Regions from separate parts of the Homo sapiens genome. Here region 2 is linked to region 1. The links come from fine-mapping of genetic effects on gene expression. Tissue or cell type: whole blood. Region 1 holds a variant in brackets; the other region holds the start of a gene. All regions are shown on one strand. Distances are between the middles of the regions.

Region 1 (4,360 bases):
ACAGTCTCTCAGACCACAGTGCAATCAAATTAGAACTCAGGATTAAGAAACTCACTCAACTACATGGAAACTAAACAACCTGCTCCTGAGTGACTATTGGGTAAATAACGAAATTAAGGCAGAAATAAAGAAGTTATTTGAAACCAATTAGAACAAAGACACAATGTACCAGACTCTCTGGGATACAGCTAAAGTAGTGTTAAGATGGAAATTTATAGCACTAAATGCCCACAAGAGAAAGCAGAAAAGATCTAAAATTGACACCCTAATATCACAAAAGAACTAATGAAGCAAGAGCAAACAAATTCAAAAGCTAGCAGAAGACAAGAAATAACTAAGATCAGAGCAGAACTGAAGGAGATAGAGACACAAAAAACCCTTCAAAAAATCAACGAATCCAAGAGCTGGTTTTTTGAAAAGATTAAAAAAATAGATAGATTGCTATCCAGACTAATAAAGAAGAAAATAGAGAAGAATCAAACAGACAATAAAAAATGATAAAGGGGATATCACCACTGATTCCACAGAAATACAAACTACCATCAGAGCTTACTATAAACACCTCTATGCAAATAGACTAGAAAATCTAGAAGAAATGGATAAATTCCTGGACAATTACACCCTCCGAAGACTAAACCAGGAAGAAGTCAAATCCCTGAATAGACCAATAACAAGTTCTGAAATTGAGGCAGTAATTAATAGCCTACCAACCAAAAAAAGCCCAGAACCAGAAAGATTCACAGCTGAATTCTTCCAAAAGTACAAAGAGGAGCTGGTACCATTCCTTCTGAAACATCCAAACAATAGAAATTGAAGGACTCCTCCCTAACTCATCTTATGAGGCCAGGATCATCCCGATACCAAAACTTGGCAGCGACACAATGACAACAAGAAAAGAAAATTTCAGGCCAACATTCTTGATGAACATTGATGCAAAAATCCTCAATAAAATCCTGGCAAAGTGAATCCAGCAGCACATTAAAAAACTTATCCACCATGATCAAGTCAGCTTCATTCCTGGGATGCAAGGCTGGTTCAACATACTCAAATCAATAAACATAATCCATCACATAAACAGAACCAATGACAAAAACCACATGATTATCTCAATAGATGCAGAAAAGGCCTTAGATAAAATTCTACACCACTACATGCTAAAATCTCTCAATAAACTAGGTATTGATGGAACATATCTCAAAATAATACGAGCTATAGATGACAAACCCACAGCTAATATAATTCTTAATGGGCAAAACCTGTAAGCATTCCCTTTGAAAACCACACAAGACAAGGATGCCCTCTCTTACCATTCCTATTCAACATAGTATTGGAAGTTCTGGCCAGGGCAATCAGGCAAGAGAAAGAAATAAATGGTATTCAAATAGGAAGAGAGGAAGTCAAATTGTCTCTGTTTGCAGATGACATGCTTGTACATTTAGAAAACCCCATCGTCTCTGCCCAAAATCTCCTTAATCTGATAAGCAACTTCAGCAAAGTATCAGGATACAAAATCAATGTGCAAAAATCACAGGCATTCCTACACACCAATAATAGAGAACAAAATCATGAGTGAAGGCCCATTCACAATTGCTAAAAAGAGAATAAAATATCTAAGTATACAACTTACAAGGGTTGTAAAAGACCTCTTCAAAAAGAATTACAAACCACTGCTCAAGGAAATAAGAGAGAAGACAAAAAAATGGAAAAACATTCCATGCTCATGGATGGGAAGAATCAATCTCATGAAAATGGCCATATTGCCCAAAGTAATTTATAGATTCAGTGCTATCCCCATCAAGCTGCCATTGACTTTCTGTACAGAATTAGAAAAAAAAAACTACTTTAAATTTCATATGGAACCAAAAATGCACCGGTATAGCCATGACAATCCTAAGCAAAAAGAACAAAGCTGGAGGCGTCACATTACCTGACTTCAAACTATATTACAAGGCTACAGTAACCAAAACAGCATGGTACTGGTACCAAAACATATATATAGACCAATAGAACAGAACAGAGGCCTCAGAAATAATG[C/T]CACACATCTACAACCATCTGATCTTTGACAAACCTGACAAAAACAAGAAATGGGGAAAGGATTCCCTATTTAATAAATGGTGTTGGGACAACAGGCTAGCCATAGGCAGAAAACTGAAACTGGACCCCTTCCTTACACCTTATACAAAAATTAATTCAAGATGGATTAAAGACTTAAATGCAAGACCTAAAACTATAAAAACCCTTGAAGAAAACCTAGGCAATACCATTCAGGACATAGGCGTGGGCAAAAACTTCATGACTAAAACAACAAAAGCAATGGCAACAAAAGCCAAAATTGACAAATGGGATCTAATTAAACTAAAGAGCTTCTGCACAGCAAAAAAAACTATCATCAGAGTGAATGGGCAACCTACAGTATGGGAGAAAAATTTTGCAATTTATCTATCTGATAAAGGGCTAATATCTAGAAGCTACAAAAACTTAAACAAACTTACAAGAAAAAAACAAACAGCCCATCAAAAAGTGAGTGAAGGATATGAACAGACACGTCTCAAAAGAAGACATTTATGCAGCCAACAAACATATGAAAAAAAAAGCTCATTATCAGTGGTCATTAGAGAAATACAAATTAAAACCACAATGAGATACCAACTCATGCCAGTTAGAATGGTGATTATTAAAAAGTCAGGAAACAACGAGTGCTGGATAGGATGTGGAGAAATAGGATTGCTTTTACAATGTTGGTGGAAGTGTAAATTAGTTCAACCATTGCAGAAGACAGTGTGGTGATTCCTCAAGGTCTAGAACCAGAAATACCATTTGACCCAGCAATTCCATTGCTGGGTATATAACCAAAGAATTATAAATCGTTCTACTATAAATACACACGCACCCATATGTTTATTGAAACACTATTCACAATAGCAAAGACTTGGAACCAACAAAAATGCCCATCAATTATAGACTGGATAGAGAAAATGTGGCACATATACACCATGGAATACTATTTAGCCATATAAAGGATGAGTTCATGTCCTTTGCAGGGACATAGACGAAGCTGGAAACCATAATTGTCAGCAAACTAACACAGGAACAGAATACCAAACACCGCATGCTCTCACTCATAAGGGGGAGTTGAACAACGAGAACAAATGGACACAGGGAGGAGAACATCACACACGAGGGCCTGCGAGGGGTTGGGGAGCTAGGGGAGGGCTAGCATTAGGAAAAATACCTAATGTGTATGACGGGTTGATGGGTGCAGCAAACCACCATGGCACGTATATACTTGTGTAACAAACCTGCACGTTCTGCACATGTATCTGAGAACTTAAAGTATAATTCAAAAAACTTGCATAACTTTTTTTTTTTTTTTTTTTTTTTTTGAGACGGAGTCTTGCTCTGTCGCCCAGGCTGGAGTGCAGTGGCGCGATCTTCGCTCACTGCAAGCTCCGCCTCCTGGGTTCAGGCCATTCTCCTACCTCAGCCTCCAGAGTAGCTGGGACTACAGGCGCCCGTCACCAGGCCCAGCTAATTTTTTGTATTTTTAGTAGAAACGGGGTTTCACTGTGTTAGCCAGGATGGTCTCGATCTCCTGACCTCGTGATCCGCCCGCCTCTGCCTCCCAAAGTGCTGGGATTATAGGCGTGAGCCACCGCTCCTGGCAAAACTTGCATAACTTTTATGCAAGTTTTAAAAATACAAAATTTTCTCCCTAAAGTTAAAAAAAAGATTTATCTGATATTTTTCTCATAATTAGGCTAGAATTTTTGGGTTTGGAGAAGAAACCCATAGAGATAAGAAGTCATATACTCGTTACATCACATCAAAGATATTATGTCATCTTTATCATGTCAATATGATTTATTACAATTGACGTTAACCTTGAACACCCACCCAGTGCTGTGGCTCATGGTTCCTGGAACTACAAGGTACTTCTGGCTTATGTAGTATGTTTTATGCTATAGTTTGAGAATCAACCATTTTCTCAAGGATCCCTGGTTCCTATTACTGGGGAGTGGTATTAGAAAACAAGTTCTGGATAGTAAATATATTCATTACTACTGGGGCACTGTTGCTTTTAGATATATTCAGCTGGCAATGCAAGGAAATATATGTGTGAATACTAACCAAAGTTTGTACATATATCTATAAATTATTCTGTATGTAACCACTCACTTGAACAGTGAGAAACCTAGCTCCCACTATCAGCTACCTTTTTACTTAATTGTTCAATTCTATATATAGTGGTTTTAGATTTGTTATCCTGTACCTCCATGGTAATCAACATTACCGACCAGAAAACAATCTTATGTACTGTTTCTTCTGCCTTTACACTATAAAATTCCACGAGTTAGTTTTT
Region 2 (4,000 bases), 41 kb after region 1:
TCCACACTGGTTGAACTAGTTTACAGTCCCACCAACAGTGTAAAAGTGTTCCCATTTCTCCACATCCTCTCCAGCACCTGTTGTTTCCTGACTTTTTAATGATTGCCATTCTAACTGGTGTGAGATGGTATCTCATTGTGGTTTTGATTTGCATTTCTCTGATGGCCAGTGATGGTGAGCATTGTTTCATGTGTTTTTTGGCTGCATAAATGTCTTGAGAAGTGTCTGTTCATGTCCTTCATCCACTTTTTGATGGGGTTGTTTGTTTTTTTGTTGTAAATTTGTTTGAGTTCATTGTAGGTTCTGGATATTAGCCCTTTGTCAGATGAGTAGGTCGCGAAAATTTTCTCCCATTTTGTAGGTTGCCTGTTCACTCTGATGGTAGTTTCTTTTGCTGTGCAGAAGCTCTTGAGTTTAATTAGATCCCATTTGTCAATTTTGGCTTTTGTTGCCATTGCTTTTGGTGTTTTATACATGAAGACCTTGCCCATGCCTATGTCCTGAATGGGTAATGCCTAGGTTTTCTTCTAGGGTTTTTATGGTTTCAGGTCTAACGTTTAAGTCTTTAATCCATCTTGAATTAATTTTTGTATAAGGTGTAAGGAAGGGATCCAGTTTCAGCTTTCTACATATGGCTAGCCAGTTTTCCCAGCACCATTTATTAAATAGGGAATCCTTTCCCTATTGCTTGTTTTTCTCAGGTTTGTCAAAGATCAGATAGTTGTAGATATGCGGCATTATTTCTGAGGGCTCTGTTCTGTTCCATTGATCTATATCTCTGTTTTGGTACCAGTACCATGCTGTTTTGGTTACTGTAGCCTTGTAGTATAGTTTGAAGTCAGGTAGCGTGATGCCTCCAGCTTGGTTCTTTTGGCTTAGGATTGACTTGGCCATGCGGGCTCTTTTTTGGTTCCATATGAACTTTCAAGTAGTTTTTTCCAATTCTGTGAAGAAAGTCATTGGTAGCTTGATGGGGATGGTATTGAATCTATAAGTTACCTTGGGCAGTATGGCCATATTCACGATATTGATTTTTCCTACCCATGAGCATGGAATATTCTTCCATTTGTTTGTATCCTCTTTTATTTCATTGAGCAGTGGTTTGTAGTTCTCCTTGAAGAGGTCCTTCATGTCCCTTGTAAGTTGGATTCCTAGGTATTTTATTCTCTTTGAAGCAATTGTGAATGGGAGTTCACTCATGATTTGGCTCTCTGTTTGTTTGTTATTGGTGTATAAGAATGCTTGTGATTTTTGTGCATTGATTTTGTATCCTGAGACTTTGCTGAAGTTGCTTATCAGCTTAAGGAGATTTTGGGCTGAGACCATGTCTCTGTTTGTTTGTTATTGGTGTATAAGAATGCTTGTGATTTTTGTGCATTGATTTTGTATCCTGAGACTTTGCTGAAGTTGCTTATCAGCTTAAGGAGATTTTGGGCTGAGACCATGGGGTTTTCTAGATATACAATTATGTAATTTGCAAATAGGGACAATTTGACTTCCTCTTTTCCTAATTGAATACCCTTTATTTCCTTCTCCTGCCTAATTGTCCTGGCCATTGGAGAGGAGGAGCATCTCCCAGACAGCTGCGTGCCTCAGAGAAGCCAGCCTCGCTAACCCCTCAAGCCCAGGGGATGAGACCCTGCTGAATCGCTGCTCTATTTTGGCTGGAGCCACAGCTCCCTCCACCGCGGGGCGGGGCTAAAATGTCCTCCCCCTTAAGGGAGCAGGCAGCTCCTCCCAGCCACCCACCCCACCAATTCCCATCCTCCCGCCCCCCTCCACCAACCCCTTCTTTCCACACTGCCCCCTGAGTTCAGGGAATTTCCCCAGCATCCCAAAGCTTGAGTTTCCTGCCAGTCGGGAGGGATGAATGCAGATAAAGGGAGTGCAGAAGGCACGAGGAAACCAAAGTGCTCTGTATCCTCCAGTCTCCGCGCCTCCACCCAGCTCAGGAACCCGCGAACCCTCTCTTGACCACTATGAGCCTCCCGTCCAGCCGCGCGGCCCGTGTCCCGGGTCCTTCGGGCTCCTTGTGCGCGCTGCTCGCGCTGCTGCTCCTGCTGACGCCGCCGGGGCCCCTCGCCAGCGGTGAGAGCTCCTGGCACTGGGGTGCATCCCAGCCTCTGCGGGGCCGCTGCGTTCCAGGGAACTCTCCCAGCAACCTGCCCTATAAAAATGTCTTTCTTCCCCAGCTGGTCCTGTCTCTGCTGTGCTGACAGAGCTGCGTTGCACTTGTTTACGCGTTACGCTGAGAGTAAACCCCAAAACGATTGGTAAACTGCAGGTGTTCCCCGCAGGCCCGCAGTGCTCCAAGGTGGAAGTGGTGTAAGTTCTCCTGTGTTGCTGTGTCCACTGTGACTTAGGCAAGTCCTCCAGCCTGGGTCGTCAACCTTTGTGGCTCATGGGTGCATCCTCTTTTTCTTTACTTCAGAGCCTCCCTGAAGAACGGGAAGCAAGTTTGTCTGGACCCGGAAGCCCCTTTTCTAAAGAAAGTCATCCAGAAAATTTTGGACAGGTATTTGTCCCTTTGATCTTTGTGGTGTTTTAATATCTTCTATGGAAAGCATATACTTCACAATGTCCTTATTCTCTCTGTAGGATTTAGACTATGCTTAGAATTATAAGGTTGTTAAGAAGAATAAGGAAACTTTTTTTCTGGAATGTTCTGGGTAAACCTTTATCACCAATCTTACATGCCTGAACAATTACACAGAGCTCATTACTGACATCTATTTTTTGTCTGCTCTTTGCTTTTATTGATTTTTTTCCCCCACCAAACGCTTTTGAAAACCAAATGTAGCATACAAGAGTGTGGGAATTGGTTATACTAATATAACTCTTTTCTCAACAGTGGAAACAAGAAAAACTGAGTAACAAAAAAGACCATGCATCATAAAATTGCCCAGTCTTCAGCGGAGCAGTTTTCTGGAGATCCCTGGACCCAGTAAGAATAAGAAGGAAGGGTTGGTTTTTTTCCATTTTCTACATGGATTCCCTACTTTGAAGAGTGTGGGGGAAAGCCTACGCTTCTCCCTGAAGTTTACAGCTCAGCTAATGAAGTACTAATATAGTATTTCCACTATTTACTGTTATTTTACCTGATAAGTTATTGAACCCTTTGGCAATTGACCATATTGTGAGCAAAGAATCACTGGTTATTAGTCTTTCAATGAATATTGAATTGAAGATAACTATTGTATTTCTATCATACATTCCTTAAAGTCTTACCGAAAAGGCTGTGGATTTCGTATGGAAATAATGTTTTATTAGTGTGCTGTTGAGGGAGGTATCCTGTTGTTCTTACTCACTCTTCTCATAAAATAGGAAATATTTTAGTTCTGTTTCTTGGGGAATATGTTACTCTTTACCCTAGGATGCTATTTAAGTTGTACTGTATTAGAACACTGGGTGTGTCATACCGTTATCTGTGCAGAATATATTTCCTTATTCAGAATTTCTAAAAATTTAAGTTCTGTAAGGGCTAATATATTCTCTTCCTATGGTTTTAGACGTTTGATGTCTTCTTAGTATGGCATAATGTCATGATTTACTCATTAAACTTTGATTTTGTATGCTATTTTTTCACTATAGGATGACTATAATTCTGGTCACTAAATATACACTTTAGATAGATGAAGAAGCCCAAAAACAGATAAATTCCTGATTGCTAATTTACATAGAAATGTATTCTCTTGGTTTTTTAAATAAAAGCAAAATTAACAATGATCTGTGCTCTGAAAGTTTTGAAAATATATTTGAACAATTTGAATATAAATTCATCATTTAGTCCTCAAAATATATATAGCATTGCTAAGATTTTCAGATATCTATTGTGGATCTTTTAAAGGTTTTGACCATTTTGTTATGAGGAATTATACATGTATCACATTCACTATATTAAAATTGCACTTTTATTTTTTCCTGTGTGTCATGTTGGTTTTTGGTACTTGTATTGTCATTTGGAGAAACAATAAAAGATTTCTAAACCACTGATGTTGTT

Evidence for each region. PIP is the estimated chance that this variant, and not a neighbour inherited with it, causes the effect.
Region 2: it holds the start of CXCL6, and the variant in region 1 is the best candidate, but not a certain one, in a credible set for the expression of CXCL6 in whole blood (INTERVAL, PIP 0.62).

Annotation. Positions count from the first base shown.
Region 1 is chr4:73,793,453-73,797,812 of GRCh38, forward strand. No RefSeq gene overlaps it. Among named protein-coding and RNA genes, the nearest start is that of CXCL6, 41 kb to the right of the region's middle. The variant C/T (reference allele first, on the strand shown) is at 2,035.
Region 2 is chr4:73,834,772-73,838,771 of GRCh38, forward strand. It overlaps CXCL6 (C-X-C motif chemokine ligand 6), which reads left to right and starts at 1,907. Exons shown (of 4, transcript NM_002993.4): 1 at 1,907-2,088; 2 at 2,193-2,325; 3 at 2,432-2,515; 4 at 2,852-3,989. The coding sequence starts at 1,980. The coding sequence ends at 2,870. RefSeq lists a silencer at 1,881-2,175.